Regions from separate parts of the Homo sapiens genome. Here regions 1, 2 and 3 are each linked to region 4. The links come from fine-mapping of genetic effects on gene expression. A gene starts in region 4. Each other region holds a variant in brackets. All regions are shown on one strand. Distances are from middle to middle.

Region 1 (8,103 bases), 210 kb after region 4:
AAAAAAAATATGACTGTCTCAACATTCCAAACCATTTTTTTACCAAAACCAATTTCAATTGCTAATTTAAAAAATGTTTTAGAGAACTATGAATAAGAGAACTTTTCCTCAATATGATAAAGGGCATCTAACAAAAAAATTGAGGATTAAAAAACCCCAAACGCAAAAATATAATTAACATCTTTAATGGTGAAACATTAAATTCTTTTCTCCCAAGACAAGGATGTTTTATTTGTCACTTGTACTTGACATTGTACTGGACATTATAACTAATGTAGTAAATAAAAAAAGTCAATCAATCAATGAAACCCCAAATGACACAAAAAGAAATAAAAACAGATGTAAGGCATCCAGATTGTAAGTGAACAGGTAAAACTGTTTTTCTTCTCAGATGACATAGTAATCATCTGTAAAAGAACACTTATGGAATGTACACAAAAGTTACAAAAACTCATGAGTTTAGCAGACTGCTTAATACAATGTAAATATACAAGTAGCAATCTTTTTTATCCTTGCAATGAATTATTTTAAATTAAAATTAAAAATGACTATTTACAATAGCATCAGATCAAAATGTGCAAGTCCTGTGTACTAAAATCCATAAAGCATCACCAAGAGAAATTAAGGAACATCTAAACAAATGGAGAGATATATCATGTTCTTGGGATTAAAAATTCAGTATTGTTTTAATTTCTTCCCAAATTTACATATTCAATGTTATCTCAATGAGTACTAGCAAGCTTTTATTTTTGTAGAAATTGATGAACTTATTCTAAAATTAATTTGAAATTGCAAAGGGCTTTTAATTGTGGAAACAACTTTGAAAGCAGAGAATAAAGCTGAAGGATGAACACTAGTTTAAGACTTAAAACTACAATAATCAAGAAAGTGTGATATTGGCATCAAGCTAGACAACTAGATAAATGGAATGGAATAGAGAGTCCAGAAAATGACAACAGCCTATAGAGATAACTGATTTCTAAAAGGAATGCAAAGGCATTTTAGCAGAGAAAAGGCAGCCTTTTAAAGAAATGGCGCTACAACAATTAAATAGCCACATGCAAAGAATATACTTTGATCCATACATCTCACAGAAATAGATTATTGCCTTATATGTAAAGGCTAAAACCATAACATTTTTGGAAGGAATTAGGAGAAATTCTTCGTGACCTTGAGTTAGGCAACGATTTCTTAAATATGACAAGAAAGGCATGGTCTATAAAAGCAAATATGATAAATATGACTTCATAAAAATTAAAACACTTACTCTTTGAAAAACACAGCTAGTATAATGAAAAGACAAGCCATTGGCTGGAAGAAAATATTTGCTTCTCTTATACAGCAAAGGACTTTTAACCAGATTAGCTAGATAACTGTTAAAACTCTATAAAATGAAAAGAGACAGTGATTAAAAATGATCTATTGGTTTGAATGGACACTTCACCATAGAAAATGTGTGAATGGAAAATAAGTCCATGATAAGATGATCAATACCGTTAGCTCTTAGAGAAATGCAAGTTAAAACCTCAATGAGACATGATTGCACAGTTATTAGATGGCTAAGATTAAAAAGACTAATGACGCCAGGTGCTGGTGAGGCTGTATAGGAACTGGAATGCTCACATGTCACTGGTTAAAATATTAAATGTTACAACCGCTTTGGAAAAGTTTTATATTTTTTTTAGTTTTGTATTTTCCATTTTTATTTAAAATCTCCTAATATTATTTTTTGAGCCTATTAATGGTATAGGGGTTTATTGCAAAATTATATAAACATTTTCAAACAAAAGGTAAGTAAGTATGGATTATACAATAAATGACAAAACACTACTGTGTAATACTTAATATGTGGGTGTTAGACAAAGTGTTAGACTTCATAGAATTTCTAAGGCAGCTTTGTTCTGCCTGCCTTTTCTACACACATTTCACACATATTTAACATGAGTTTTCCTTTTTCCCACTGACCTTCTCACCTGGCAGCTTGCTTCTGAGTCTTTCACACAAGCCACACACAGCTGCTTGGTTGAGCACTTAAGTGGCCATCAGGCAGCAGTGTCCCTAGATGTTCCTGCTCCAAAGCACGTTTTTAAAGTGAGTAGCTGCATTCTGTCCTTGAAAGAAAAGTGTGAATAACATCACATCAGAAAGGACTGGAGAAGGAGAAGCAAATCTTAGCGGGTGTTAAATGGCTTCCAGTGTTCCTGGCAGACTGAGATGAGACCGCAGCAGAAACCAGAGGCACGAAGCCCACCTCAGCCTATTGTGAAGAATCTTTTAATATAATACTCTATACTTGTTGGTCAAAATCTTGTATTGGGTACTTTTGTTGAATTTTCAATTATATTATCTTTTGTTTCCTGTAAACTAGGTCAAATTTTCCTGAAGGTCTGATATAGTATATTTCCTTTTTAAATCATATATAATGTGTAATAATATTTTAATACATGAAACAGTCAAATGAAGACAGTTTTTACTATTTAATACATGAGACAATCAGTCAAAGGAAGACTTTTTTACTATTGATCTAAATGCTTGATCATACTGTAATTAAAAAGTGAAATAGCTGAATTTATTGATCTAAGAGCATTTATGGATCTTCAAAAGTATTCACTACGTTAGTAATAGATGCAAATAATGGATATTATGGCACAATGACTAGTCTAAGAGAGGCGACGTGTTGTCATTAATTTTTTTTCATTCAAATCTATTTATTTTTATTTTTAAAATTGTAGTAAAAATCACACAACATAAAATTTACCATCGAACCTATTTTAATTGCATAGTTCGGTGACATTAAGTGTATTCACAGTTATGAATATACTGCAAATAGTTTTTTTTTCAAAAGTTAAACACATAACTACCATCTGACATGGCAATTCCATCCCTATGTACTTCCCAGGAGAAATGAAAACATGTGTGTTTATAAAGACTTGAACACAAATGTCCATGGAAGCTTTACCTGTAATTGCTAACAACCAGAAATGACCCAAATGTTAATCAACAAGTGAATGGATAAAAACTAATACATCCATTCAGGGGAGTAATACTTAGTGATATAAAGGTTAAAAAAAACCCGTTGAGACATACAACATGGACAAATCTCAAAATAATTATGCTGAGCCAAAAAGCCAGACAAAGAATAATACATAATTATGATCTTATTTTATAAAATTACAGAGAATGCAAATGAATCTCTAGAGACAGAGGTTAATCAGTGATTGCCTAGGGAGGGTGGGGGAGAGGGGAGGAGTAAGAAGGAACAATTTCAAAACATTATCACAAAGCAAATTCCCAAGGAGATGGATAATATCCTGATTTTGATAGATTCAGTGTTTTCTATGGGTTTTTACATCTTTAAAAATCTATCCAATTTTATATTTTAAATGTGTATAATGTATATATCAATTGTATAATTCTTATATAAATTCAGCCTCAATAAGGCTGTTAAAAAATAGAAGCAACGTGAAGACTGTCTCAGACATACAAAAGTAGAGAGACGCCACTGTCAGCAGCCGGCACCACCAGGCACTAAAGGACATTTTAGAGTTGGTTTCCAGACAGAGGGAAATGATAAGAAATAAAAATGAGGGTCTACACAAAGGAACAGGAGTGGGTGTAAAATGCATCAGCAAATACAAAGCGTGTTTTACCGTATTTTGAAATCTCTTTATTGAACATTGTTTTAAACAGTAATAATAATACATTTGGGGTTTATAAGTAGAAGCAAAATGTCTGCTAACAATAGCACAAGGGCTGGGAGGTGGGAAATGGAACCAGGCAGTTGTAAGATTATTAAATTACATGGGAAGTGATGCCATATTATTTGTTATTCTTGGGTATTCTTGATAAGTTAATGCTGTGTATTGTCAACTCCAGAGCAACCATTTATAAAAACAAACATGATTCATACACCACTTACAAAGCTAACAAAAATGTAATATAAACCCATGCACACTGTGTTCCAGCAGAACTTCAAAACAATTCTTAAATGATGACTTGGTGGGAATTAGTTACTAGAATTTTCCTTCATGGCCTTGCAGACCGAGGACTTCCGCCAGCTTTCGCATGGGAGAGCGTCCTGGCACGGGGTGTCTTTGACGTGGGCAGACTGAGGACTTCAGCCAGCTTTCAAATGGGAGAGCGTCCTGGCACGGGGTGTCGTTGACGTGGGCAGACCGAGGACTTCAGCCAGCTTTCACATGGGAGAGCGTCCTGGCACGGGGCGT[C/T]GTTGATGTGGGCCATGAGTTTGCACCTTTTCAGATGGTGGGAAGCCACTCACAAGTGACAGAGGGTGTCACATGATACACAAAACCGAAAGGAAGCCCTAATCCCGGCAGGAAAGGTCTGTGTGAGGATTCACCAAGAGTGGACGTCCAGGAGTGTGTGACGCCGGAGCCGGTGTGCCCCACGCATGTGTAGGTGCTCACAGGCACACGCCTGCACGGAGGGCTGTCTGTCCAGGCCACTGCTGTGTGGTGGCCTCACTGCTGCCTTCCTTAATGGCTGATAACACTAAACTCTTTGATGTATCCAATTCCCTGCTTTATTTTAACTCAGATTATTCCTTACTGTGCCTTTGGCCATCAAATATTGACTGCATGATAACATTGTACTTTGTTTCTGTTGTCAGTGCATGACGTTTTCCACTCTCTAGGGAGTTCCACTGCCAAGAGAACACAACTCATCACCAGAGGAGACAGGATCGGGGAGGAGGCGGCCAGGCCAGCCCTGGCCCCGGCCACAGGAACACTGGCGTCCCCTGGCTGGGAAAGGACAAGGTGTGCTCCAGTTCTGGCCACGTCTGTCTGGTTTCCCCATCAGAGGTGGTGGCTTGTGAACTAGGAGCGCTCGAGTCCCAGCGCCGTGGCCCAGTCACCAGACGGTGGGTGGGGAGCCGGGCTGGGCCCTCGCCCTGGCCACAGTGCAGCCCGCTCCACTAGCTGGGACCCGGCTTCCTGCAAAACCAAAGCTCAAGGCTGGGCAGGGCAGCCAGCTGTGTCCCAACTCACCCCAAGTTTCTGCACTTCATGTCCGAGCAGATGGGCTTTCAGAGGGGACGCTGCCCTAGGGTTTCACAGCCACTTATGCTGAGTGATGCCCAAACCTGTAACTCCCAGTCACTGATCCTAGGATCCTTGAACCACAGGATGCTGACCTCATTTCCCCACCCATTGGTGGATGCGTTCATCAGAGTCTTCCAGAAACCGCGGTGGGGGGATCGCCCAGGATCGCACTCAGGAATCCCGCCGAGGGAGCTCTGTGAATGCAATTTAGGCGACCGCACTTTCTAATGTTTGAAATATTGCGTCTAAGGAGACATTTCTCTAAATGTCACAGGAGACACATGCATGTTTAAGAAATGTACATGAAAGAACATACTTGAGTATATGCCAAGTATGATGACCTAGCTATGATAATTTTCAAAAATGTAGCAATCGTATTGTCAGAAACTATTATTTTAGAGGTTAGAATGTTGACCACCCATTTGTTTTTAAATTATTATTATACTTTAAGTTTTAGGGTACATGTGCACAATGTGCAGGTTTGTTACATATGTATACATGTGCCATGTTGGTGTGCTGCACCCACTAACTCGTCATCTAGCATTACGTATATCTCCTAATGCTATCCCTCCCCCCTCCCCCCACCCCACAACAGTCCCCGGAGTGTGATGTTCCCCTTCCTGTGTCCATGTGTTCTCATTGTTCAATTCCCACCTATGAGTGAGAACATGTGGTGTTTGATTTTCTGTCCTTACGATAGTTTGCTGAGAATGGTGGTTTCCAGCTTCATCCATGTCCCTACAAAGGACATGAACTCATCCTTTTTTATGGCTGCATAGTATTCCATGGTGTATATGTGCCACATTTTCTTAATCCAGTCTATCGTTGTTGGACATTTAGGTTGGTTCCAAGTCTTTGCTATTGTGAATAGTGCCACAATAAACATACGTGTGCATGTGTCTTTATAGCAGCATGATTTATAGTCCTTTGGGTATATACCCAGTAATGGGATGGCTGGGTCAAATGGTATTTCTAGTTCTAGATCCCTGAGGAATCACCACACTGACTTCCACAATGGTTGAACTAGTTTACATGGCACCCAACTACTACTCGACATTCGTAACCTTTTATTCATTAGAAATGACCAACGGGAACTTTAAATTACATGACAGCAGTTTCCTTCTTAGAAAGAGGAAGGTAAAACTCAGAGAAACCTATCAAGCCTGAATAAAGGAGTAAACACAAAAATGAAGCAGTTCCAACTCTTCTATGGGGCTCCCTACCTGTGGTCCTTCATCCTCATAATATTATTTTCTGAATGGCCTCTGACAGCCACGATTTCCCCAAATGATCAATGTCGTCAAACTATTCAGCATGGCAGATCAGGAAAATTGTCAGATTTATTTTAGAAAGAATTTTAAAGGACAGGTGGACTCTAAAGGGATGTTGTGCTTAGCTAGATATTCAAAAATGCAATTAACGAACACATTCCTTCTCCAGATACACCGAGTTTTCCTGTGTGTTCAGGTGTTTGTTCCGAGGGTGCGTTAGTGGACGAATTCCTCCACCTGTGCATCTGGAGACCTGGGGATGTCTATGCTCTTTGCCCCCTGCCAGGTAAAAGAGTAAACTTCTAATAATCAGCTCAGATTCCCTTTTGTTGGGTTAGGAGATGAAAATACGTTGTACTGGATTCTCTTTGAAATCTAAAATGTCCGTTGGTTTTGGAGTTTTCTAACAGAACCGCCCTTCAGGTAAACATCCAAAACCTTCCTGTGACCCCGTGCAGAAGCGCCTCCCACAGCCCCCAGAGGAGAGAGGTAACCTCGGCAGATGCTGAGACCAGGGAGCCACCTCTCTTGGGCTGTGCTGGAAGCATCTCTGAGCTCTGCTCAGGTGGGAGTTACTGACACGCATATCCGTGCGAGGGCTGGCGTTTCCTTCTTTCATCAAACTGCCCATCCCCTCTGCAGCCAGTGCAGGAGTCGCGGAGTGCCGCCTTGGCTCTGGCCGCCTGAAGGCCTGCCGTGCTGGAGAGCGGGTCCAGGGGTTGACATCTCTATTCTTTTGTCTGACAAATCTGTGCACTGGCTTGTAAAAAAAATCAATACTGTTTTTCCTTGGTTCTCTCTCCACAGGTGAGCTGGTGGATCGTAGCGGCTCTCCCCGTTCCCGCCTCCAATTCTGTTCTCAGTTTGTTTCTCTTGCTTCAGGGTTGAGCATGTGATCATATCTCCAGCGGACGACACCAAAAGAATGTCTGTGACCTCGTCCCCTGGCGACCACGTCTACAGTGACTGAGTGCTGCCGTGGCTGGAAAGCCAGGGTCTGCATCTCCCAGGACCTCAGGACCTGTGATGAGGTGTTGTGGGGCCAAGAAGAGGAGGGGGTCCATGGTGGGCTCTGCCGCAGGTGACCCTGCGCACTGTCCTAGCACCTGTGCCTAAGGAGATGCCCTCTATGGTACCAAGCATCTCCCAAAATGTGATTTGCTCTTCCTGTGATAGAATGGAGTGGGCTGAGGGGGCGATGGGTGCTGGAAAGCCACAAGGCTGCCATTGATCTGCCAGAGAAGGCACCTGCTCACCTGGCAGGATGCTCACCTGGCAGGATGTTCACCTGGCAGGATGCTCACCTGGCAGGAATAGCAAATTTGCTAGAAAAATGCAGGTTCCCCTGTTCTGGGTGATCTGTGACTTCTGCCACACAGGGGATCCAGAGTGCGAGGATATCCAGAGAGCTGGAATGAGGATTTTGCTGAGCTGAGGTGGGTTGCTTTCCTCTCCTTCCCTCATGAAATCACAAAACCCATGCTCATCTCCCAGATGACCTAAGGGTGGCAGTTCCTAGAGGCAGGCGATAAATGAGGCACAGTGACCTCACGTCCAGCCTAGTTTCCTGTGTTCATTCCTGAAGGGACCTGAGTGTGGGAACAGAGTGCTCTCCTCTCTCTCTTTCTCTCTCATTCTCTCATTCCTTCTTTCTCTTTCTCTCTCTCTTTCCCTTTCTCTCTCTCTCCTCTTATTCTCCCTCTTTCTCTCTCTCTTCCCCCAGCCCCCACGTTTGTCCTTCTCCTTCCTTGCAGTCTTGCTCTTTTTCA
Region 2 (8,103 bases), 36 kb after region 4:
ATGGGCCTGAGGAGAGGACACTCAGTGGAAGTGGAGAGGACACAGCAATAGGTGAGTGAAGCAGGCCTCAAATCTCCAAACAAGTGAATCCTCCCAAAACCTTTAGAAGTCAGGGATGGGCAGGTATAGCCACAGAGCAAGATGCCAGCATTTCTTTCCATGGATCTCTGTGGCTGTGTCCCTGTTGGACTCTGTGGCACACATTTATGGCTGAGTGGCCCATAGTGCGAGTCACTGAATTTTCTGCCTGATGTCCCTACATCACTGTCACCTCCCCCTGGGGTCCCCGCATCACCCTCACCTCCCCCTGAGTCCCCGCATTGCTCTCACTGGGGAGGGGTGGACCAGAGGCTTCACACACCACATGTCAGAATAGGGGTTTCCCTATTCTGGGTCCCCACATCACTCTCACCTCCCCCCGGGTCCCCGCATCACTCTCACCCCCACCTCTGGGTCCCCCATCATTCTCCTCACCCCCAGAGGTCCTGCAATCCTGCCATATGTTCTTCTATTTCCAGAGCTGGCCTGGAAGTAGAGTTGTGGCCACGCTCTGCTGTGCCTGGAACCTCTATTCTGACATGTGGTGTGTGAAGCCTTTGGTCCACCCTCCCTGGCCCCTGCAGGCTGAATGCCTGACAGAATCCACCCCCACTCCCACTGCTGCCCCCAAGTAGTCAGGACAGCAGGGGATGGGTGGGACAGGCCACACAGGAGCAGGAGCTGCATGGGGGCCGCCCTGCGTCTGGGGAGCAGCCCTCCTGCCCCCATGTGCTGAGGCCTCTTCTAGCTCGGGCTCTTTAGGCTGGAAGGTTTCGAGGGTCCTCACTGCATGGAGCTTCCCCACCGCACAAAGTCCTCAGCAAGGAGCGTGATGGCTCCGGAGCCCCAGATGTAAAGCTGAGTTGCCTCGGAGTAAGAGCTTCGGTCTCCGCCCTTGATTCATTCAGTGGGGGCAGAGTGGGGTGGGGGGCGGGGTCCACAGAAGCCTCAGAGCTGCCCCGGGAGGGAGGTGCCCCAAGACTTGGCCCAGAACTTCCCCCAAGATGGTCTCTGAAGGGTGACATCCTGGCCCTCCAGAGTGCCAAGATACTGAGGGCACGATGGCCTTCACGTGGCCTGGCCCTTCCCATCTCCATCAGGCCCTGAGGACATGGAGGGTGCCTTGCAGCTCTCAGGTTGCAAGACCACCGGGTCTGCTCACTGGGGACAAGCAAAGCTGTCGCCCACCCACACCTACGGCGTGCACAGACAACCTGTGGGGTACCTGTGCTTGTGCCCTAACCACCTGTACCCTGCTGAGAGGAGGGACTGGCGGGACGTCCCAGGGGCTGGGCCAGGGCTCTCCAGGTGTGGGGTTCTGGGGTGGGGGGGTTCCAAAGAGGAAGCAAGTGAGCCCATGCCCACAGCCCTCCCTGCTCCGGGAACCAGAAGGAGGCTCCGTACCATGTGGGGCCACCAGGCAGCATGGGCTGGAATGAGCCGGCTGATGAGGCTGGGGTGGTCCCCGACACACAGGAGGGGGCAGCTTCCCCTGCAGGGGCGTTTCAGAACTAGCCATGGAGTGGGAGCCCAGGGGGAGCAGTGATGGCTCCCAGGAAAGAGGGGCATCCCTGCCGTGGGCACCTCCTTCAGCCCCACGTCTCCACAGCTGGACTCGCGAACGGATCCCACGTGGCCATGCCCCTCTGCTGTCCCTCCTCGGAGGCCTCTTGGAGGTGACACTTTTGAAACAGGGTTCATGGAATGTTGTCCCGAGGCCAGGCCCAGGGATTACAATGTGGATGCCTGTCCACTGGTCCAGATGGGCGATGCCGTCATGACACAGGCCAGAGACAGAAGGGGCGGATTCTCCGTGAAATGTGGCCTCACGAAGCCAGAGGTGTCCTGGGACCTCCGTCCCTCAGCTCTGCTCTATCCCCACTGCCTGCCACCGGGCAATGCCAGGCGGTAAACCTGGCGGCTGCCCCTCTCAGGCCTTGTGTTCAGACCCCAGCTGGCCTCTCCTGGTGTAGTGCCCCAGCAAGTTCCTCCATGCCGTGCCTCCACTTCCTCAGCCGCTAGTGCCCTGGAGAGGGAGGGACATGGGCTGCACTTGGTACCTGAGAACCGGGTGGACACCAGCTCTTGTGACTGTTCGTCTTGGAGACTCACAGACGCAGCCGCCCTGGGCTGCTTCTCGCTCTCCCTCCTGTCGCCCCCTGTGCCTCCCCCTTGTCTCTCTCCCCGTCTCTTCTTCCCTCTCTTTCCCTTTCCACCCTTCCCTTCTTCCTCTCCCTGCTCACTCCTCGCTCTCCCCTGCCCTCTGTCTCCTCCCAGCTGCCCGCTCTGTAGGGTGCCTCCTACAGCTTCTCATCCACCTCCACTCTCCCTTGGTCTCCTTACCTGATGCCCTCAAGGAAAGCTTCTGCCTCCTAAGGACAATACGGCCGCACGGGGCAGTTCTAGGTGATGGCAACTGTTATAAAAATTGTTTAAAATAAAATTACAGGCTGGGTGCGGTGGCTCACGCCTGTAAACCCAGCACTTCGGGAGGCCGAGGCAGGTGGATCACCTCAGGTCAGGAGTTCGAGCCCAGTCTGGCCAACATGGTGAAACCCCGTCTCTATTAAAAATACAAAAATTAGCTGGGTGTGGTGGTGTGCACCTGTAATCCCAACTACTTGGGAGGCTGAGGCATGAGAATCGCTTGAACCCGGGAGGCGGAGGTTGCAGTGAGCCGAGATTACAGCACTGCACTCCATCCTGGGTGACAGAGCAAAACTCTATCTCAAATAAATAAATAAATAAATAAATAAATAAATAAATAAATAAATAACAATGCTCATTGTACAAAGTTTGGAAACTACAGAAAAAAATTCAAGAAAAAATTAAAAGCTCTTTGTAATCCCACCATTCAGAGAGAGCCACAGACAAGACCTTTGGCCGTGTCTCCCCCCTTTCCAGGCTTATTTAATAACTATGATGTAACCCTATTTACTAGGATGCCACTGCCAGGTGTTCCGAGCTGTGGCTGCACTGCGCCTGTACCACTGTTCTCCTCTCGTTAGTCTGTCGTAAGGGTAAGCAAACTTTCTCTATAAAGGGCCAGGTAGTCAACACTTTTGTCCTAGAGAGCCATATGGTCTCTGTCTAAACTACTCACCTCTGCCGTTGTAGCGTAAAAACAGCCAAAGGTGACACGTCAGCATGGCTCTGTGCCAATGAAACTTTATTTGCAAAGACAGGAAGTGCAAAAACAAAGATCAGATTCATCTAATCTTTGAAAAGGCAACATTGTCTTAACTAAAATAATTGAAATTTAAGTCAGTTAAACTGGACAAACACAGCTGTTAGGAGCGACTTCCATCTTTTCTGTAATCCTTACCTCTGTGCTTTCCCAGTGCATCTGAGTGCACGTTCCTCAGGGCCCTCGGCTCATCCTGGGTGTGCTGGCTTCTCAAGGCTGTCTCTGCGGTGTGTCCGGGGTCAGGTACAGATGGCATCCTGCCAGGCAGACCCTCATCCCTGCAAGGTGGACTCTTTAGAACTGATAACTTTTCATGAGAAAAATAATGAATCATGGAAATAGAGGCTTATAAGCCATCTATGTGGTGCCAAGTGGGTAGAGCAGGCCATTTGTGGGGAACCCAAAGTTTCTACGGCTGCTCATGTGAATGCCCGGCCACGAGGGGATCAAAGGACGGTGGGCCCCGGACACAGAGCCCCGAGGGCTCTCTCTGGCTGAGAATCCTGAGTGCTATGCTGGGAGCGCCGGGGAGGGAGGGTGTCTGGGGACAGTGTGTGGTCCTAAGCAGCAGCCCCTGGCACTGGGGAGTCTGTCCCTGATCCCCAGAGGGAGGACCCCCCATGGAGGGCTGTTTGTCCCACTGCACGCCTCTGGGGGACTGGGGTGCAGACCTGGGGCAAAACTGCAACTCCCAGATTGAGTGCAGGGAGGCAGCCGGGTCAGCGCGGGGGTTCCTGGGGCCCAGCAGCACAGAAGCATCCCTAAACGTGCATGGGGCTGGGGGGATGTGAGGAGGTGCACATGTGCCCTGTGTCCATGTAACAGGTACCACAGACCAGGGGCTTAAACAGCAGGATCGCCTTCCCAGGGTGCTGCAGTCTGCAAGTCTGAAATCAAGGTGTCGCTGGCCTCGATCCCCGAAGGCTCCAGGGGAGACTCCTTCCTGCCCCTCCCAGGTTCTGGTGGCCCAGGCATCCCTCCGTGTGCCTGCATGTGGCTGCATGGCCTGTCTCTGCCTCTGCCCTCACGTGGTCTCCTCCCTTTCCTGTGTCTGTCCACCTCTGCCTCACTCTCCTAAGGACACTTGTCACTGGGTTTAGGGCCCACGCAGCTCATCCAGGATACGTTCCCCCTTTCACATCCTCAACTAAAGCACTTCTGCTAAGATGTGGATGCATTTATTGGGGGCCATGGTTCAACACGACCATGGTGCCCGACCTCTCAGAGCAG[G/T]TGCCCTGGGAGCTGCCATTTCAGCAGAGAGGGGCACGGCTCTGCTGGAACAGAGTTGCAGCCGGAGGGTCTTCAGGTCTGGTTTTGCCTACAGAACACCCTCTGGAGCATCCCAGCACCACTCACACCTGACTTGTCAAGCTGGGAGTGCTGCGGGTGTTGCTTAGCCCCGTATCCAGTGCTGCTCTGGGAAAGAGCGTGGTGACTCAGCACCTTTGGCTGAAGGACAGAGTTAGGGCAGTGGGTGGGTGGGAATCGGTGAAAATGCGGTTCACTGGTCAATATTCAAAAAGGCTTCTTAATGAGGGTGTGCTGAAATAGGAAAGTGCCACTTTAGAGAGTGATGAATTCCAGGCCTTAGCTCCTTGCCTGGCTTCTGAGGATGTACACAGATTTTGGTGAAGAAATGGACTCCTGTTTGGAGATTTCAGAGGGAAAGCTTGGACTGCCACTAGGCAAGAAGAAAAGTAGAACAGATGGTCCACAAAGCCACATCCACAAAGATGAGAGTGTGGCTGCTGGTAAAAGACACTGGAAATGACGGCAGCTTAAATAAAACTGCACACAGCTTCTCCCATGCCAAAGGAAGCTGGAGGTGGACAGCCCAGGGCTACATGGGAGCTGCAGACTCCTCCGGTGTTGGGGCTCCTCCCATCCTTCCACCCCGCCTCATCCAGCGTCTTTCCTAAGTGTGCTTCACAGTCCTGGTGTGGCTGCTGAGGCTGCAGCCACCACCTCTGCATTCCAGGCAAGAGGTGGGAAAAGTGGGAGGAAGACAAAAAAGGCCCTTGTTGAAAGCCTCACCCCGGAGTGACTTCTTCCCTCTACTTGACCATTTTCTTGAGGATGGCACTGATTGGGCGTGGCCACCAGTCCCTGAGGAAGTGCTCATTGATCTGCAGCAGAATGAGGCAAGTAAGAAAAAATGAGTTGGTGTTTCTTCACATTAATTTTTGTTTTTCCAAGTGTTTTTGACATTAAAATGTCCTTTTTCTTTTGAAATGATAGAGAAAGTTGATTGTAATTACTTATTTTGCTTGAGGCCATTGTTTTTCAAAATAGTTTTATTTGAAAAAATAATCTGAGCATAGTTAAAAAGTCAGACACTACTAAAAGGTTCATAACAAAATCCAATCCAGCCCCTCATCCCAGCCACATGCCCTCGAGTCTTGCTCCCCAGCACCACTGTTTTCTGTTACTTATTTCTTCAGCGACTTGTCTCTATATTTCCAATAATATAATACCCTACTACTTATTGATGTCTTGTTTTTAGACCGTATCTATGGACTTCTTCCTGTGGTAGTTGAAGTTTAAGTCTCTTACACTCGACATCTTTTTTCTAGCACGACTCTCCCTGTTTCCTCATACGTCTATCACTAGTTTTGGCTAAATAACATTTATTTACTGCTAAGCTCAGTTATGCACTGTGATTCTTTGTCTTCTGTTATATAGCTTTTCATTTTTCCTGGAATTAATATTTGCATGATTGTTTTCCTTTTTTATTATCTGTCCACATAATTACTGATGCAATAACGATTCTAAGTGTCCACACATATTAAATTATCTGATAGCTTCCTAACCACCAGGAACACCGCCCCCTTCTTCTGGCAGCGCTGCCTTGGTGGGTCCCTGGAGTTCCCACTGTGGGAGTTTCCACTCTGTGCTGGCTCTCCTGTCAGGCTTGATTTAGTATCTTGTTTCATTATTTACTATCTTTTTTTTTTTTTTTTTGAGATGGAGTCTTGCTCTGTTGCCAGGCTGGAGTGCAGTGGCGCCATCTCAGCTCACTGCAACCTCCGCCCCCCGGGTTCAAGCAATTCTTCTGCCTCAGCCTCCCAAGTAGCTGGGATTACAGGCACACGCCGCCATGCCTGGCTAATTTTTTGTATTTTCAGTAGAGACGGGGTTTCACCATATTGGCCAGTCTGGTTGCAGAACTCCCGAGCTCAGGCAATCTGCCTGCCTCGGCCTCCTAAAGTGCTGGGATTACAGGTGTGAGCCAACAAGCCCGGCCTACCATCTCTTTCTTCTATGTTTTGCTAAAGCATGTCTCTCAGTAGCTGCCTACGAAACGGGGTATGGATGCCATTTTTTGTTTGTTTGTTTTTAAATCTTGGCTGTCTGAAAATAACTTTTTCAAGCTTGATGGAAAGTTTGGTGAGATACAGAAGTCCTGTTTGTCAATCGTCCCTCAGTATAGTTTTAAGTCTCCTTGAGGTATAATTCATATGCCACACAGTTTTCAGAGATCTGTTTGATGGGTTTTAATCAATTTATCACAATCCAGTTTTAAAACACTCGATTTTGCTCCCCTGAAAAACCTCTCCTGTTCCCCTCCCAATCCGCGCTCCACGCCCCTAGCTCCAGGCAGCCGCTGATCTGCCGCTGTGGTTTTCTGCCTCTATAACTTTTCCCTTTCTAGAGATTGTACATAGCTGGAGTCATTCAGTATGGCCTCTCACGGACCTGACTGTTCTCACTTAGCATCATGTTTTGAGGCTCATCCACACACGGCCTGAATCAGAGTTGCTTCCTTTTTACTGCGGGGCGGTGTTCCACGGGGCGGACGGGCTAAATGTTGTTTACTCATCCCCCAGTTGATGGACGTTCAGTTGGCTTCCCGTTCTGTCTGTCATGAATAACGCTGTGACGCGCACTTGTGTGCCGGTCTGCGTGTGGCCGCCTTTTCCTCGGCTTTCCCACCCGGAAGAGTGCTGAGGAGTGTGCACCTTCACTTCAGGAAGTCTCAACATTAACAAAGAAGAGCCAACGCTGGCCGAGGAGGCTTCAGAGCCTCCTGTTCCTCCTTGTGTCTTTTGAGTATTTTTTCATGGAAGTTTGGTGGGTTGACGTAGCTGACTTAAATTATCCAGAGTTGGTCCTCACCTGTGATCAGCCCCCAATGTTGGAATGAAGGCCACTGGAAGGCCAGACGCGGTGGCTCATGCCTGTAATCCCAGCACTTTGAGAGGCCAAGGCGGGTGGATCACGAGGTCAGGAGTTCAAGACCAGCCTTGCCAACATGGTGAAACCCCGTCTCTACTAAAAATACAAAAAATCAGCTGGACGTGGAGGTGCGAGCCTGTAATCCCAGCTCCTCGGGAGGCAGAGGCAGGAGAATCACTTGAGCCCGGGAGGCAGAGGTTGCGGTGAACCGAGATCGTGCCACTGCTCTGCAGCTGGAGCGACAGACTGAGACTATGTCTGAAAAAAAAAAAGAAAATAATCCATTGGAAAATGTGCTTAGATTTACACCTGTAGTTTTGAAGACCAGAGTTTGGAAGAATAAAAGTTGCTTAGGAAGTTTCTGACCTAGAGGGACTTTGGGCTCACGTGTCCTTCCATTAGCATACCTGGATCCTCAGCGCCAGGTGAGAAAACCCCTGTTACTTCCGTCTGAGCGAGTGCCCGGCCACGGCCCTCTGAGGGACTCACCGCTGCTGCTCAGGGACCCCTCCTCCCATTCTGGAAACCATCGGCAAAACCTCAGCAGACCACGGGGCCATTACTGTGGGCTCCGGTTTCCAGCCACTGCACTTCCAGACTTTTCTCTTCGGAGCCAGTGGGAATTTAGCAAATGACTGGATGGGGTCTGGGCAACCAGGCATCACGAGGCGCCTTCTCCTTCCACTCGGTGGAGCAGGGTC
Region 3 (8,103 bases), 69 kb after region 4:
TGTGCTTACTTTAAAGCAGTTTCCTTCCTTTGCGATGGTATTTTTTGGGGTAAAGCCTGACCTGGATCATTAGTGACTGTAATTTGCAGCCCTCTACAGTCTCTCTTTTTTTTTTTTTTTCTTTTGAGACAGAGTCTCGCTCTGTCTCCCAGGCTGGAGTGCAGTGGTGTGATCTTGGCTCACTGCAAGCTCTGCCTCCCAGGTTCACACCATTCTCCTGCCTCAGGCTCCTGAGTAGCTGGGACTATAGGCAGCTGCCACCATGCCCTGCTAATTTTTTTTTTTTGGTAGGTTTTTAATAGAGATGGGGTTTCACCATGTTAGCCAGGATGGTCTCGATCTCCTGACCTTGTGATCTGCCCGCCTCGGCCTGCCAAAGTGCTGGGATTACAGGCGTGAGCCACCGCGCCTGGCCTCTACAGTCTCTTTAATTAGGATCCTAAATGTTTCTCCCGTGGTCTCATCTATTTTAACCTAAAACGCCCTTGGGGAAAACCTTTTGTCACTGCAACACTTCAGAACACACTTACAACAGGAGGTTTTTTCCCGAGGGCCTGCAGCAATCAAGGAGGGCCGTTCTGCTGGGTTTCCTGTTTTGAGCGGGATTTGTGTTCCGGGAGGCTGGGTGCTTCCTCAGAACTCTGTCTGCTTTTCCTCAGTAGGTTACAGACATTTCAGTCTACTAACCCCCAGAAGAAACAGCGTGCTGTTAGATTTAGTTATATTATCACAGGTCATTTTAAGATTTTCATTCATTTAATGTAAAAATCAGCCCAGAATTTTATTTTCCGTAAGGTGCTTAGGAGAGCGTGGGCATAGCCATGAGACCTCCGTGTTGGGTTGTGTTTAAAGATGTGTATTCATTTCTCATCCTCAGCTTTTGCCTCAAGAGTTTAGCCTCTGTCAGGATTAATCGGGGTCAGATTATCCTAACACGGAGTGTTTTCCATTCTTTCAGAAATTATTGCAACACCCTGCAGCGTTCAGACTTGTCATGGATGACTCTAACAGGGCAGGTGTTACCACGTCAACTGGTCCAAAAAACAAAATACCGGGTGCACATCCCTTGAAGTTTCGGGTGTGTTTACTCTGAGGCACCGTGCACTGCAAAGCTGGGGATTCACAGGCAAGTTTAGGTGAATCCTCGGAACACGTGACTGATGAATTCCGGGCCCGTGTCGGGCTCTCAGCCAGCGCCTGCTCCGTGCGCCAGGGACGGAGTGCTGCCTTCTCGGGAGTCACACGGGACTGGCTTAGCCCTGGCGAGTGTTTCGCATCAGGTGACAAGTTGTGCCGAGTGTCTGCCACCCTGCATGCCCACACTGAATCCGTGCAGGGCCCTCCCGGCCGCCTGCTCAGCTGTGGACACGGAGCTCCGGCACAGCCAAGTCCTGAATGACATGCAGCCAATTCTCTTGGGCCCTTTCCGGGTTTGTCTGTGGTCCTTCCTTCTGTGTTTCCAGGCTGAGTCCTAAGGCCCTGGTCCTGTGCCCAGTGTGGTGCCTTGGAAGTTCTGAAAGTCACAGGTGAGCTGGGTGCTCCTGGGTGTCCCACCCCGGCTAGGGCTGTCAGCATCATGAGTTCTGAAGAACTGCCCTGAGGGCTGCAGCATCCCTGCGGGGGCTCAGACCGGCTGGACCGTAGCGTAGTTTCTGGCCCCGGCTAGCTGGCGACCGTGGGCCTCAGTACCCTGTCTGCGGGGTGGGGCGATGCGAACCTACACCCTGGGATGGGGGTGCCCGCCCAGGGCAGTGCTGTCTGTGATCTTGCCATGCCCAGGGCACCCACTCCATGACGCTGGCTGTCGGTGCTTTCCAGGGGCACAGTGGAGTGTGTGAGGAAAGACCCCTGCAGACGGCCTCCGGCGGGCTTCGGGCAGCTCTCCCTGGTTGGGGTCCCAGGGTCTTCAGGGAAGCCCCAAGTCCTGGTCCTGTTCATCTTTGTGTCTCTAGTGGACAACATGTAAGAAATGCTACTTAAGCTGACCTGTTAGCATATGTAACATAATGCCGGGAAAAGAGCTGTGGCTGAATTGAATGATTTCTTAAATTGATTTTATATTGTGTGCCCTTTGAAAAATGTTTGGGGAGAATTGGAGTTAAAGTTTTCAACACAGTGTGGTCCTTGCAGACTTCCTGTGGGAGGGAATGACTTTCTGTTCCTCTGCGTTAGCATCCAAGTACACTCTTATGGCCTTTTCGATCCAATAATCACAATCTGGTCTTTGTCAGCTTTTTTTCAGGCAGTGACTTGGGTTTGTTCACACACTAGAAACTTAACTCACAAATCTTTAGGGTGCTAGGGGTTATGAGCGGGTTGGGAAGTGTCCCCACGTGGTTCACACCTGCCCTCTCCATGCTCACGGAACCACACGCTCGCTCCATCGTTTGTTGGGGGTTCCGTCAAGTGCCAGGTCCTCAGCGGGGCTCCAGGGGTGCAGAAAACGTGCAGGACAGCTCCAAGTTCACAGAGTCCCGGGGAGCTGATCGGCCACCAGGGCCTCTCGGTGTGGAGGGAAGAGGGACCGGCCAGCCCAGCTGGTCCTGAGAGTGCAGCTAGCAGCTGCTGACCAGCCCCCAGGGGGCTCCCGGGACACTCCCATGAGCGTGAGGATGATGAAGCTTCTCCCTCACCACATCCCAAGTCTCCAGGACACCAAGGGAGATGAGGGCATTTTAGGTTCTGCTCCCAGCCCATGCCACGACTTCTGGGCCCGAGGGCATCCTGTGCTGTTTTGTGTGAAGCGGCACAAAACATCCCACAACCACTGGGAGACGCCTCTGTCCTGGAACCGCTGCGGCCGCTCTCCCCACCCCTGCCAGGCGGCTCGCAAAGGGCAGCTCCTTCTTCCCGTCTGGGTCCGCACCACGCACCCGCCCTGGCCTCCTGCCCGGGGACATGCAGAGTCACCATGCGCTCTGAAACAGCCCCTCGGCAGCTTCACGACCTCACCAAGTGCCCGCCGCTCTCACGAGAGAGGTGGTTATGGTTGCGCATTGAATATGCTTGGGAGAGGCAAAGATGGATGGCGTAGTCTCTACCCTCACACCCAGTGCTGAGCGCGAGTCGTCCGCTGTGTGTGCATCATCTGCTGTGCGTGTGTCATCTGCTGTGCATGCCTGCGTCATCTGCTGTGTATGTGTCATCTGTTGTGCATGCGTGTGTCGTCTGCTGTGGGCGCGTGAGTCATCTGCTCTGTGTGCTTGTGCCGTCTGCTGTGCCTGCGTCATCGTCTGCTGTGCGTGTGTCATCTGTGCGTGTGTCATCTGCTGTGCGTGAGTCATCTGCTGTGCGTGTGTCATCTGTGCGTGTGTCATCTGCTGTGCGTGCGTGTGCCCTCTACTGTGGGTGTGTTCATCATCTGCTGTGCGTGCGTTGTCTGCTGTGCGTGCGCCGTCTGCTGTGCGTGCGCCGTCTGCTGTGCGTGCGTCGCCTGCTGTGCGAGTCGTCTGCTGTGCGTGCGTCGTCTGCTGTGCGTGAGTCGTCTGCTGTGCGTGCGCCGTCTGCTGTGCGTGCGCCGTCTGCTGTGCGTGCGCCGTCTGCTGTGCGTGCGCCGTCTGCTGTGCGTGAGTCGTCTGCTGTGCGTGTGCCGTCTGCTGTGCGTGAGTCGTCTGCTGTGCGTGTGTCGTTTGCTGTGCGTGTGCCGTCTGCTGTGCGTGTGTCATCTTCTGTGTGTGCGTGCCGTCTGCTGTGCATGTGTGCATTGTCCATTGTCTGCTGTGCATGCATCGTCTGCTCTGCGTGCGTGCGTCATCTGCTGTGCGTGTGTCATCTGCTGTGCGTGTGCCATCTGCTGCGGGTGCATCATCTGCTGTGCGTGCGTGTGCCATCTGTGCCTGTGTGCATCGTCTGCTGTGTGTGTGTTGTCTGCTGTGCATGCATGCGCCGTCTGCTGTGCGTGCATGTGTTGTCTGTTGTGCATGTGTCATCTGCTGTGCATGCATGCATTGTCTTCTATGGGCACAGGCGTCATCTGCTATGGGTGTGTGCGTCGTCTGCTGTGGGCCGTGCGTCGTCTGCTGTGCATGCTT[G/C]TGCTGTCTGCTGTGTGTGTGTGTGCATTGTCTGCTTACGTGCATCGTCTGCTATGCATTTGAGCACCCTTCCCTCCAAGGACTCCAGAACGTTCCACCTCCACCCATTCCTCATCTCCTGTGTGGCCTGTGAGACCAGGCGTGGCAGTCCCTGCTCCCAGCCCAGCACCCTTTGTCCCCTAGGGAGGCGTCCTCCATGGTCACCGTCTGTGTACCCATTGTGCGGGTTGTGCTGTCAGCACCTGTGCGGCGGGGGTGGGTGGCGTGGAAGTCCAAACCCACTGGGGGCTGTGCCATCCCTGTTTGATGTCAGCATGTGCTCCCTGTGTTCTATTAACCATGTAGCATTTTTTCTTTCTTTAAGCTGAAGAGGATGGAAATTAATTTTGCTTTCATAATTTCCTGACATGCTAGGAGGTGATTGGGGCCCTGGGGCATGTGGCTGGCGGGGGGTGCCTTGGTCCTGAGCAGGATGGAGGGTCCCTGGCTGAGGGGCGGGGCTGGAGGGGCCACCGTGCACCCCGGGTCTCGATGGTGTCCTGCAGAATGGGCTCTTCCTAGAAACTTCAAAAACAGTTAAGGAAACAGCCTAATCTTTCTGTTCCTCTTCTCATGGCCTTGGCGGTTACTGTTACACGAGCTCTGTGCTTGTCCTCCCCGTGTGGACTAAGGTCCTTAGAAATGTCAGGAATTGCAAATGAGTCCCAGCGAGCTTCCTCCTCTGCCCAACGCTGCCTCTCCTGATGGGGCCTGGCAGGCCGGGGTCCGCGGAGTGAGGAGTTTATCAGGATGACATAAAGAGGTGCAGTGGATGACCGCTGTATGAGGTTAAGCACAGGCAGGCGGTGCAGATCCCAGGAGTTTGTTTAGGAGAAGCGGAGCCTTGCCTCTGGTGCTTCCTGTGAACTACAATCTGAATGACAATCCGGCAGCCCAGAGCCTCCCCTGGATTCCAGGGAAGCCGGGAAAAGCTGCTTCCTGCGGGACTCATCTCAGGGTTCCCTGGAAGGAGACAAAGAGCAGACCTGAAATTTAGTCAGCCGCTTAAAACACTTGTTTTCGGGGTGTTCTAATGGCTCGGCCAGGCTCTGCCGCGCATCTGTGGATTCCAGGCTGCCCTGGTGTCTCAGTGCAGCTGGCTGGGAGGAGGCAGAGGTGAGACCCAGCAGAGCTCCCAGTGCTTCCCGGTAGCTTCTGACTGGGCTCTGTGCACAGACCTGATCCTTTCTGAAGCCATGGTGACCTGCGCCCATGATCACCATATACGGAGGCCCAGAGTGGAACACCACTGTGGAAATAGGGGCTTTCTGGTGACCGCCCTCCTCACTGTTTACTGTCTGATGAGCCTCACCCTGGCTTTCCGGTGCGCTGGGCCCTGCGCCTCTCTGCACACCTCTCCCTCACCCACCCACCCGGGCATCCCACACACAGCACCCAACCTGGGGTGGGAGAGGAGGAAAGCTCATGTCTCTCAGGCTCTCCCTTTTGGGGGTAAAACTAATATAGTTTCATCTCATTTTCAGTAAGGCAGGGATGTTTAGAGAATTCCAGTCTACTGTGTTAGGAAATTCTGGGGGAAAATTAGTAGACTCGGGGGAAATATTTAATTCATGAAAATGGGATTATAACATACTTTGGAAATCATTTGTTATCAAGACAGTCATATGGGTCTGTTCCAAGATGGCTGAATAGGAATAGCTCTGGTCTGCAGCTCCCAGCATGATCGATGCAGAAGACGGGTGATTTCTGCATTTACAACTGAGGTACCTGGTTCGTCTCACTGGGACTGGTTGGACAGTGGGTGCAGCCCACGGAGGGTGAGCTGAAGCAGGGTGGGGCATCGCCTCACCCAGGAAGCACAACAGGTCAGGGGATTTCCCTTTCCTAGGCAAGGGAAGCCATGACAGACTGTACCAGGAAAATCAGGACACTGCCACCCAAATACTGCACTTTTCCAGTGGTCTTAGCAAATGGCATATCAGGAGATTATATCCTGCACCTGGCTCAGTGGGTCCCATGCCCACAGAGCCTTGCTCGCTGCTAGCACAGCAGTCCAATATGGAACTGCGAGGTGGCAGCCTGGCTGGGGAAGGGGCATCTACCCTTGCTGAGGCTTGAGTAGGTAAACAAAGCGGCTAGGAAGCTCGAACTGGGTGGAGCCCACCACAGCTTAGCGAGGCCTGCCTGCCTCTGTAGACTCCACTGCTGGGGGCAAGGCATAGCTGAACAAAAGGCAGCAGAAACTTCTGAAGGCTTAAATGTGTCTGTCTGACAGCTCTGAAGAGAGCAGTGATTCTCCCAGCATGGTGTTTGAGCTCTGAGAATGGACAGACTGCCTCCTCAAGTGGATCCCTGACCCCCGTGTAGCCTAACTGGGAGACACCTCCCAGTAGGGGCTGACTGACACCTCATACAGGAGGGTGCCCCTCTGAGACAAAGCTTCCAGAGGAAGGATCAGGCAGCAATATTTGCTGTTCTGCAATACTTGCTGTTCTGCAGCCTTTGCTGCTGAAACCCAGGCAAACAGGGTCTGGAGTGGACCTCCAGCAAACTCCAACAGACCTGCAGCTGAGGGACCTGACTGTTAGAAGGAAAACTAACAAACAGAAAGGAATAGCATCAACATGAACAAAAAGGACATCCACACCAAAACCCCATCTATAGGTCACCATCATCAAAGACCAAAGGTAGATAAAACCACAAAGATGGGGAGAAACCAGAGCAGAAAAGCTGAACATTCTAAAAACCAGAGCACCTCTTCTCCTCCAAAGGATTGTAGCTCCTGGCCAGCAACAGAACAAAGCTGGGCAGAGAATGACTTTGACAAGTTGGCAGAAGTAGGCTTCAGAAGGTGGGTAATAACAAACTTCTCTGAGTTAAAGGAGGATGTTTGAACCCATCGCAAGGAAGCTAAAAACCTTGAAAAAACATTAGACAAATGGCTAACTAGAATAAATAGTGTAGAGAAGTCCTTAAATGACCCGATGGAGCTGAAAACCATGGCACGAGAACTACGTGATGCATGCACAAGCTTCAGTAGCTGATTCGATCAAGTGGAAGAAAGGGGATCAGTGATTGAAGATCAAGTGAATGAAATGAAGTGAGAAGAGAAGTTTAGAGAAAAAAGAGTAAAAGGAAATGAACAAAGACTCCAAGAAATATGGGACTATGTGAAAAGACCAAATCTATGTCTGATTGGTGTACCTGAAAGTGACGGGGAGAATGGAACCAAACTGGGAAACACTCTTCAGGATGTTATCCAGGAGAACTTCTCCAACCTAGCAAGCAAGGCCAACATTGAAATTCAGGAAATACAGAGAACACCACAAAGATACTCCTCGAGAAGAGCAACCCCAAGACACATAATTGTCAGATTCACCAAGGTTGAAATGAGAGAAAAAATGTTAAGGGCAGCCAGAGAGAAAGGTCGGGTTATCCACAAAGGGAAGCCCATCAGACTAACAGCGGATCTCTCGGCAGAAACTCTACAAGCCAGAAGAGAATGGGGGCCAATATTCAACATTCTTAAAGAAAAGAATTTTCAACCCAGAATTTCATATCCTGACAAACTAAGTTTCAAAAGTGAAAGAGAAAAAAAATCCTTTACAGACAAGCAAATGCTGAGAGATTTTGTCACCACCAGGCCTGCCTTACAAGAGCTGAAGGAAGCACTAAACATGGAAAGAAACAACCAGTACCAGCCACTGCAAAAACATGCCAAATTGTAAAGACCATCGATGCTAGGAAGAAATTGCATCTTCCTAGGAATAGGATTATGTATCATGTATTATTTTCCATCTGGCTTCTTTAACTCAAAATGATACGAATGAAATTCACCCTTGCTTCTGTGCAGCTCCTTCCTCATGACTGTTGTGGAGGTGTTGCCTTGCACAAATGCTTCCTACTGCTGATGGACATTTGACTTGTTTCCAGGGTGGGGATACTGTGAACACTCCACCCAGGAGCATTCTCACACATGTCCTCTGGTAAACACATGCATGAACCTCTGTGGGGTGTGCACTGAGATGGGGAGCTGTGGGGTCATTTGGTGCGTGGATGTCTGTGGGGTGTG
Region 4 (8,101 bases):
CTTCTCCTCTTTGCCCACGGGCTCTGCGGGAGAGAATGCGTGGCCAGTGGAGGGAGAGGGTTGGTAGGTGAATCAGACCCCCTGTCCCCGTCCACCATTATGAGGCCTGTTCCCGACGCTACGAAAAGCACTCGGGGCCTCTCTTCGCGTCTCCCATTTCCTCCAGAGGCCACCAGGTCACAAACTGGCAACACAGGGGCCTCCAATGGGGGAGGGGGGTGTCTAATTTTTTTTTTTTTTGAGACGGAGTCTCGCTCTGTCGCCCAGGCTGGAGTGCAGTGGCGCGATCTCAGCTCACTGCAAACTCCGCCTCCAGGGTTCAGGGCATTCTCCTGCCTCAGCCTCCCGAGTAGCTGGGACTACAGGCGCCCGCCACCACGCCCGGCTAATTTTTTGTATTTTTAGTAGAAACGAGGTTTCACCGTGTTAGCCAGGATGGTCTCAATCTCCTGACCTCGTGATCCGCCCGCCTCTGCCTTCCAAAGCGCTGGGATTACAGGCGTGAGCCACCGCGCCCGGCCTACTATTTTTATACGTGATTTGAGTTCCTTTAAATGCTCAGGGGTCACCACCACAGTCCCCACATTGGTAGCCTGAGGCAGAACCGGTTTGCACGGTGACCGCCTAGGCATGGGGCTCGGCGTTTGGGACCCCCAAGACGTCCTAGAACCGCAGAGAAGGCACTGTGCCTGCACTCCAGGGCCTCAGCCCCCAGTGACAACCTCCCAACCCACCTGCGTTCTTGGAGCTCTTGAGGGGCTCCTCCCGCGCCTCCTCCTCGCCCCCCTCCTCCTCCTCGCCCTCCGCGTAGGGCCGCTTCTCGTCTGCGCACTTGTTCCGCGGCGGCCACGTCATCTTGTTCTCCTTCTTGAGGCGCCGGCGCGCGTTGGCGAACCAGGTGGAGACCTGTGTGAGGGTCATCTTGGTGATGATGGCCAGCATGATCTTCTCGCCCTTGGTGGGGTAGGGGTTCTTGCGGTGCTCCTGCAGCCAGGCCTTGAGCGTGCTGGTGGTCTCGCGCGTGGCGTTCTTGCGCCGCGTGCCGCTGTCCATGGTTCCATACCTGGAGACAGGCTCTGCAATGGGCTCAGGCTGGGCCCTCTGGGCCCCAGGCATCATGGGCATAGGGGTGGGGGTCGGCCAGGGGCATGCCAGGATGGGCTTTGCTTCCCCGTCGTGGGGTTGTGGTCATGGTCATAAGGCCCAGGTAGGACCCGAGCCCCAACCAGGTGCCGCTGCCTGCTGGCACTTGTCTTCTGTGGCCAAAGGGCAAAGATTATATTTGACTAAACTTACAGGGAGCCTGGGCTCCTTCCCAAGCCAGAGAGGTCCAGGCCAATTCCTTTATGGGGATGACCGCCTAGCCGTTTGATCCTCAAACCATAAAAAGGTATAGACAGGTAAGCCCACACCCTGAGATGTAACACGTGTGGCAGGAAGGGTCATTACTGCCCAGGAGGAGAAAGCACCCAAGGGGCCTAAGTGTACCGTCTTTGGATAAATTTGTAGTGGTTGCATTGAGGAAAGTGGGGCATCCTGTCCAAAAGTGGGACAGGAGAGAAAGGAGGGCCACCAGGGGTTCCCCACTGTTCCCACTGTAGGGGCAGTGTGGACACTCGGAAGGAGGTGCCCAGAGTCTGCAGAGCGGGCTGCCCCGTGAACTGGGCCTTCCAGATTCGACTTCCCTGAAAGCTGCCGCACATTTAGGACTTCTGGGGCCCAACAACGTGGGGGACGGGGAGACTGGGGAGCATTTTAACCATGGCTGTGCAGGAGCAGGTGGGACAGGAGGCTGGACCCCACAGACCACAGACTCAGGTCATGCCTGACCTAAGAGTGTCTCTCTTCCTGCCTCCCGCCTTCCAGAAAGGGGGCATGATGGTGGAGGGGAGTTGGTGGCTGACAGTGCAGAGGGCCCGTGGGGCTAGTGCTGGTTAGGAGGGGTGGGTCCTCACCTGTCATAGGGGTACTGGCCCAGAGCTGGCTCGTAAGGGTAGTAGGCGGCAGCGGCTGGTGCCAGGCCCCCATGCGCAGATCCCGAACCATCCTTGGAATCAAAGCTGTTCTGTGGGAGCCAAGAGTCTGGGGTCGCAGTTTCCAGGGAGGCAACCCCACTCCAGCCTCTCTCCTAGGAGCCCCCCACTCCCAAAGGCTTGGCAAGGATTCCTGGGCAGCCCTACGCCCCGGCAGGAAGGAGCTGATTTCCCGCTTGCTTTAAAACCTGGTCTCGCAAACCTGAAGTGGGGATGTTCTGAGTTGCAGAAGCAGTGTGTGGTGGAGCGCGGGCCGGTGGGGGGGGGCGGGGGGGAGGAGGTGCAGTGTGGGGAGCGGGGATGTGGAGTAGGAGGAAGTTGGAGGGAAGCCAGAAAGAACTGGGGGCCGGCAATAGGGGGCAGCTGGGAGAAGGAGTGGGGATTGTTAGGGCTGGGGATGCCCTGGGATGCACTCAAGTGGGGAGGAAAAAGGGGTGGAGAAAGGGGAGGGGCTGCTGAGCGAGGGGATGGAAGCCAGGAGGGGAGAAGGGAGGAGAGAAATGGGGAGGCGCAAGGCGGGGGGAGGAGCAAGGGTGGGGGAGGAGCAAGGAGGGGGAGGAACAAGGAGGGGGCGAAAGCAGGGGAGAGGGAGGAAGAGGGAGATAGGAAGGATGAGTCAGAGAGGGGCTGGGAGGACAGGAAGAGGGAGGCCAGGAGCCTGAAGGAGGCGGGGAGAGGAGAATGGGGTCAGGGAATGAGGGAGGGAAATCTACCAGGAGGGAAGAAGCGGGAAACACACGCAGACCGAATCTGCCAGCTGATGAGGATTTAGTAGGGAACCAAAAACAAGAAACGCAGTGGCCACCTGCCGGGTCATCTGTCCCAGGGGGTGGGGGTGGGGTTCTGAGGGTCTCGGCTGGGAGGCGCAAAGTTGAAGGCAGCCAAGGTGAGCGCCTCCCCTCTGTGACAGTCCGGGGACCCGGACTGGCGCGCCTACTGGGGCAAAAGTGGGCTTGGCAAATCGAGGGCCAGGGGCAGGGCAAGGGCTAGGGATGCCCCACTTACCAGCGAGTAGAAGGCGGACGCCTCCGAGCCGTAGGTCACGTAGTTGCCATAGCCCTGCGATCCGCCATAGGGACCCCCATAGACGCCCAGCGCCGCGGCCGAGTTGAGCTCGTGGCGCGCGGTGGCCAGCAGCCGGCTCTCGTAGACCGGGCAGTAGACCGGCGCCTGGGCCGAGGCGGCGGGCCCGGAGTCCGCCAGCGTGCGGCCTCCGGACTCGCAGCACGTGCTCAGGGAGTTGGTGGCCATCAAGAACTGCAGAGAGAGGCCGCGAGGACTGGCGGGAAGCCGGGCTGGAGGCTGGGGCCCTGGGCCTTGCCAATCCCGCGCGCCGCCCACGAGGGCGTGCCCCGAGTACCCCCGGGCCTCCCGCCGTCCACACCAGGATGCTCGCCCCTTTCCACTAGCTTGTGCGCGTCTGGCCTCCTCCGCCACGTGGGGCCCAGCCGAGCACCTACACCCTTCCCCGGAGGGTTTCCAAGGCCTCTGACGCCATTTGCGCGCCAAGCCTCCTTCCCCAGGGGTTCCTTGGGGTCCTAGGACTCCCCTGGGGCACAGCCTGAGCCTTGTGGTTCAAACATCAGGGAACCCGGGCCCGGCCCGTCGGATTTTCTTAGCGCCTCGGCCTTTCCCCGGGGGTTTGGGGAGCAGGGGTTGGGCGTGAGGGGCGCGCGACCCAGGCCTTGCTAGCTCGGAAGCCGCAGGCAGTCGTAGGTCGGACACTCCCCACCCCCCGTCCCCGCCCCATCCGCCCTACCGGCACCTGCGGTGGCCTGGGCGGGGCGGGGCTCCGCTTACCTGGGGAGCCGAGGAGTAGGGGTATCCAAACTGCGGGTAGGACATGGCGGGCGCGGCCCGGGGCGGACGGGCGGGGCCTGCAGGGTTCTGCGCGCTGGGGCCGGCGTGGCGCGGCCACTGCTCCGGAGCTGCAGGCTTCTAGGCGCTGGGAGGGCGAAGCAGGAGAGCCGGTTAGTCCATCCCCGCGCTCCGCAAACTTTTCTAACCGGGTAACAAAGTGAGCAGCGGTGGCCGCCGCGATTCCTTTAACTTCGCATTCCGGAGGCTCGAGGGGGCTCTGGGACCGAGCGGCCTCGCAGCGGCGACAGAAATACATATTTTACGAAAAAGAAAAAAAAAAAAACGAGTCGCGCGAACCCGTCAAGTCAGATGTGCGCGGCTTGAAGCGGAGGAGGCTCTGACGTCAGCCCCACCTCGCGCAGCCCGGCCTGGCCGCAGACTCGCCGGTCACTCGCCGGCGGCTCAGGCCGGGAGGGGCCAGGACAGTCCCGGCCGCGCGGTGGACGGAGGGGCCATTCCTCCGGGCGTTAGCAAATAAATTCCATCCGAGTCAATATCGCCCAGCGAACGGTGTTTCTCTTTAGTCACCCGAGAACGAGAGGCACTTTTAATTAGAAATTAATTAATGAGCAGCTGCTCCTTCCCGCCCCACTGTAATCATTCGTCTCAATTACAAATGAGACCTATGAAAGGACACGCTGAAGATGTAATCAACAGTTAAAATTAGCCCGGCGCTGCGCAGGCGGCCGGCCCGGCCTCGCGCTGGCGCGCTCTGCTCCGAGTGGCAGGAAGGGGCTCGCAGGCGCCCCGCACGCGTCTCGTCACTATTGTTTAATCGAGAATCAGCAACGCCTCCCGCCGGTTTCCACCCTACGCCGGAATGGACTTTCAGAACCCACTGCGGCCGCAAGACAGCCCGCAAGAGCTGGTCAAAATGCCCTCAGGTGCGTGGGGGCTTCGGGGCCTTAGTTGGAGCCCGACACCCTGAGACTGGCGGCCCGAGGGCTGTAGGGCCGCCCCGGGCGTGCGCCCACCGGCTTTGCACCTCTGGGCAGCCGAGTGTCGCGGAGAACGCCCCATCTTCTCCACCGCGGTCTTTTAAGTTCCCGCTCAGCCCACCGCCCCCACCTCGCCTCCCCGACTTTCCTCCCCGATCCCCTTTCCGCCGGCCGTGCTCCGCCGGCTTCCCCCTGCCCCTCGCGGCTAAGCCGGGGACTGCCGGGCGGCCCTGCGCGCTCGGAAGAGCAGGTTCCTCAACCCAGGCCCCGGCCCCTCCCGCTAAGCTCGTCCCTCCCGGCGCCCCGCAGGGCTGGCTGCGAGGGAGGGGGCGTTGGGTGCCTGGCGGAGGCGCCCTCCCCTGTCCATTTTGCCCAGCTTTCTGTCTGGGGCGCACGGAGCAATCGGAAGAGGGGACCGAGCGCCCACCCCAGGACTCCCTCGGCCAGTACCCTCCCTGGGACCTTGCCCAAGTTCAAAGCGGAGGCCAGTGAGCAGGCGGCAAGGGGGCGGCAAGGGGGCGCCCGGGCCATCCCGAACCCGTTCCCCGCCTTCTGCGCCATCGCCCTCCGGGACCGGGACTCGCCCCGGTTGCCCTCGCCCCCTGGGCCGGCCTCCCGTGGTAAGTTGGGAAGGAAGCCGTGCAAGGCAGCGTTGTGCAGACTTGCTCAGAAAGATTCCTGGGTTCAGACCTGTGAATCGCCCCAGGGTCACCCTCTAATTAATGATGACGTCCTCGCCCTCTCCCCAGCTGCAAGCCTGCCTCCCAGAAACGAAATCTGCCTGCTCTTTTGACAGCTCGGTTGAAGGTGATTGATGACTATCTGGAGACCACAGTACACATCATATAATATCTGCTGCGTAATTGCTTTAATTTACAGATGAAAATACGAGTTCTCCGATCGCGTTGGACCGGAGCGGGCCACGTCCGAGCTGCTTGCAGAGGGAAACCATCGGAAATAATGAATAGCCGCTCCATGCAAATTATTCAGACAGTTTAGCGTCGGTAGCCGCGAGAAATATATAAAGAACACGAGTCAAATGACATTAATAATTGTTTCTGAATTCTGTATTGATTTCGCGGCAGGCCGCGTTTCTTTCTTTCTCACCTGAATCGCTAATATCACCTTCCTGTAAATAATAAGAAACTAGCCACCGGGGTTTCTCGCTAGAAATGAATCTCTCAACCCCTTTCCCTCTCCTCCTGCTCCTCCCCTCCCCCACCCTCCTTCCTCCCCTCTCCCACCCTCCCTCCTCCCCACTCCTTGCAGTTTTCTGGTTTTTCCCGAGCATCCTTCTACTTCCCATTATTTATTGTTTACAAACTACTCGCTCTCTCCAGGTAATGAGGCCCGGCTGAAGGAGGGGTGTGAGCCCAGCCGGGCCAAGGGCTGGGATGGGGAGTAGAGACCCCCAGAGGGGAGGCATTCAGCTGTGGCTTGTCCTTTCCTCACCTATACTCGGGGACCTGGCCTCGGCGACTGTGAGCACTCCGCCGGCTGAGGGGGAGAGCCAGGGCCCAGGGGCCCAGCCACCTATGCCCTGCACCTCTGGGCTCTAGTGCAACAGCTCAGCCCACCCAGACCTGAGGCTGGTGCATTTCCTTCCTTCCAGACCCGGCGGGGCTTAACTGGAGCCGAAGCCCCAGAACAGGCGGCCATTCATCTTCTGAGCAGAGTCTGGGAGAAGCAGCCTCCACTTCCCAGGGCAGCCAGTACGTGGGGGCCCTTTCGGGGGCTTCCTTTGACCACCACCGCCACCTTCTCCTGTTCTCTTTTGCCTTTCCAGCCTGTGTGCATAAATCGACGCTCCAGTCCCCACCAGCGGGCGACCCTTTCTCCGTGACCCAGAAACCTGGCCTCTGAATCGGCTTTCCCAGGCCGCCGCACACACACGCTCCACTTCCTGCCCGCCAGCAGGCCCCAGCGCCTGGGGTCCGGGCCCAGTCACAGTCACCCTGCCTCGGGAAGCTCGCAACTGCCCAGGAGGCCTCCTGACCCGCCCGGCCTCACCCAGGCCCCACTACTCATTCCAGGACACAGGGTCAATCCAGCCTGTGGATTGGCGACCACCGGGACATCTCACTGAAACCCTGTAGCCTGGCCTAGGCCCGCCTGCCCAAACCGGGGATTCTCACTGGGCCACCCTTCTCCCATAGATAATACTGGAATATTTTCCAAGTGCCTTCACCAAAAGGCCAAGCCTGGAGCGGAGGCACCCAGTGTCCCTTTCACCAACGATAGGACGCTCAGCATCTCAGGTATCAGCTGAACGCGTCTGCATAGACTCGGAGTGCTGAGCCTTCCTCCCTCTAGGGACCCCCGGTACTAAATACACCCGTGAGCAGGTGGGCCAGAAGTCAGCCGGCTCCCGGAGTACACAGCACCGGCTCAGCTTCGGGGAGATGAGGTGCTCCCGCTGGCCTGGAGCGCTCCGAAGAGCGGAGGACCAGGGCCGGAGCAGGCCGCAGGGGAGGCAGGGGATGGTCAGCCCCTAACGCGAAGCGCAGGCGGGTCGCCTATTTTGACGGGGTTACCGTTGGCCGTCGGAACCATGGAAGGCCTCCGGGGAGACAGGCCGGGCCCTGACCCTTCTTCGGCCAGCCTAGCCCTGGTGCTTCAGGAGTTACCCTGGGGGCCACCAGTTCCCCGCACCAAGAGCTCGTCCGGAGGGAGCTCCTTCCAGCCCAGAGAAGTTAACTCCAGCCAAAGGCGAAGCCGGGAGCCCGGGGCACCAGGCAAGGGCCTTTCTTTCTGAGACCTGGGGCCAGAGACCTTGGGGGCGCCTGTGCCCGCCCACCGCTCGGGACACCCGGCTGGGGTGTGGGTTTGAGAGGCCTCACGGTCGCTGACGCCGCACTGGCGAACCTCGAGGTTGGCAGGTCATTTCCTCACAGCCCCGAGGCCCCCTCGGAGCCAGTGGTAGGAGAAGGAGCCACAGGGACAAGCGGTGAATCTCTGGATTCCCAACCGCCCTCCATGGGGGCCCGCGGCCCTCTCCCTCCTCTCTCCCGCTGCGCCCCCGCCGCTTGCTCCCTGGGTACGGCCTGAGGCTGGACGGAGCGCCGTCCGGGCGTCCAGGACTCAGGCCTGGCCACTCCGAGCCCCCCACCCCCCGCCCCGCGCCGGCCCGCGCACCCTGCTTCCCGCAACTTGCAGCAAACGCAGCGGCCTCTGGAGAGCCTAGCGACGGGTAGCAAACTTTGTCCCCTTAAGCGCAAGAGCAATCCTCGCAAAGTTTGTGCGGCGGAGCCCACTCCCTACCTGAGCTGG

Alleles and levels. Positions count from the first base shown, and alleles are read on the strand shown. Sizes are in standard deviations (SD) of each study's normalised expression. Not every link is listed here.
In carriers of allele C in region 3, the expression in pancreatic islets of the gene that starts at base 4,156 in region 4 tends to be lower than with G alone (large effect, 0.85 SD a copy in PISA).

The links. PIP is the estimated chance that this variant, and not a neighbour inherited with it, causes the effect.
Region 1: its variant is the best candidate, but not a certain one, in a credible set for the expression of IRX4 in skeletal muscle (GTEx, PIP 0.51).
Region 2: its variant is the best candidate, but not a certain one, in a credible set for the expression of IRX4 in esophagus mucosa (GTEx, PIP 0.59).
Region 3: its variant is the best candidate, but not a certain one, in a credible set for the expression of IRX4 in pancreatic islets (PISA, PIP 0.62).

What each region holds. Positions count from the first base shown.
Region 1 is chr5:2,090,023-2,098,125 of GRCh38, forward strand. It overlaps LOC105374618 (a long non-coding RNA gene), which reads left to right. Exons shown (of 13, transcript NR_171679.1): 8 at 6,504-6,620; 9 at 7,217-7,770. Among named protein-coding and RNA genes, the nearest start is that of CTD-2194D22.4, 210 kb to the left of the region's middle. The variant C/T (reference allele first, on the strand shown) is at 4,227.
Region 2 is chr5:1,914,823-1,922,925 of GRCh38, forward strand. No RefSeq gene overlaps it. Among named protein-coding and RNA genes, the nearest start is that of CTD-2194D22.4, 32 kb to the left of the region's middle. RefSeq lists an enhancer at 4,147-4,960. The variant G/T (reference allele first, on the strand shown) is at 4,457.
Region 3 is chr5:1,947,736-1,955,838 of GRCh38, forward strand. All of the region lies in intron 3 of LOC124901165 (keratin-associated protein 5-5-like), which reads left to right. All of the region lies in intron 2 of LOC105374618 (a long non-coding RNA gene), which reads left to right. Among named protein-coding and RNA genes, the nearest start is that of CTD-2194D22.4, 64 kb to the left of the region's middle. RefSeq lists enhancers at 998-1,499, 2,483-3,682 and a silencer at 4,880-5,174. The variant G/C (reference allele first, on the strand shown) is at 4,032.
Region 4 is chr5:1,878,770-1,886,870 of GRCh38, forward strand. It overlaps IRX4 (iroquois homeobox 4), which reads right to left and starts at 4,156. Exons shown (of 5, transcript NM_016358.3): 1 at 3,834-4,156; 2 at 3,039-3,290; 3 at 1,956-2,065; 4 at 735-1,063; 5 at 1-23. The coding sequence starts at 3,878. It overlaps IRX4-AS1 (IRX4 antisense RNA 1), which reads left to right and starts at 4,564. Exons shown (of 2, transcript NR_183257.1): 1 at 4,564-4,777; 2 at 5,711-5,880. RefSeq lists enhancers at 5,020-5,872, 6,422-6,955.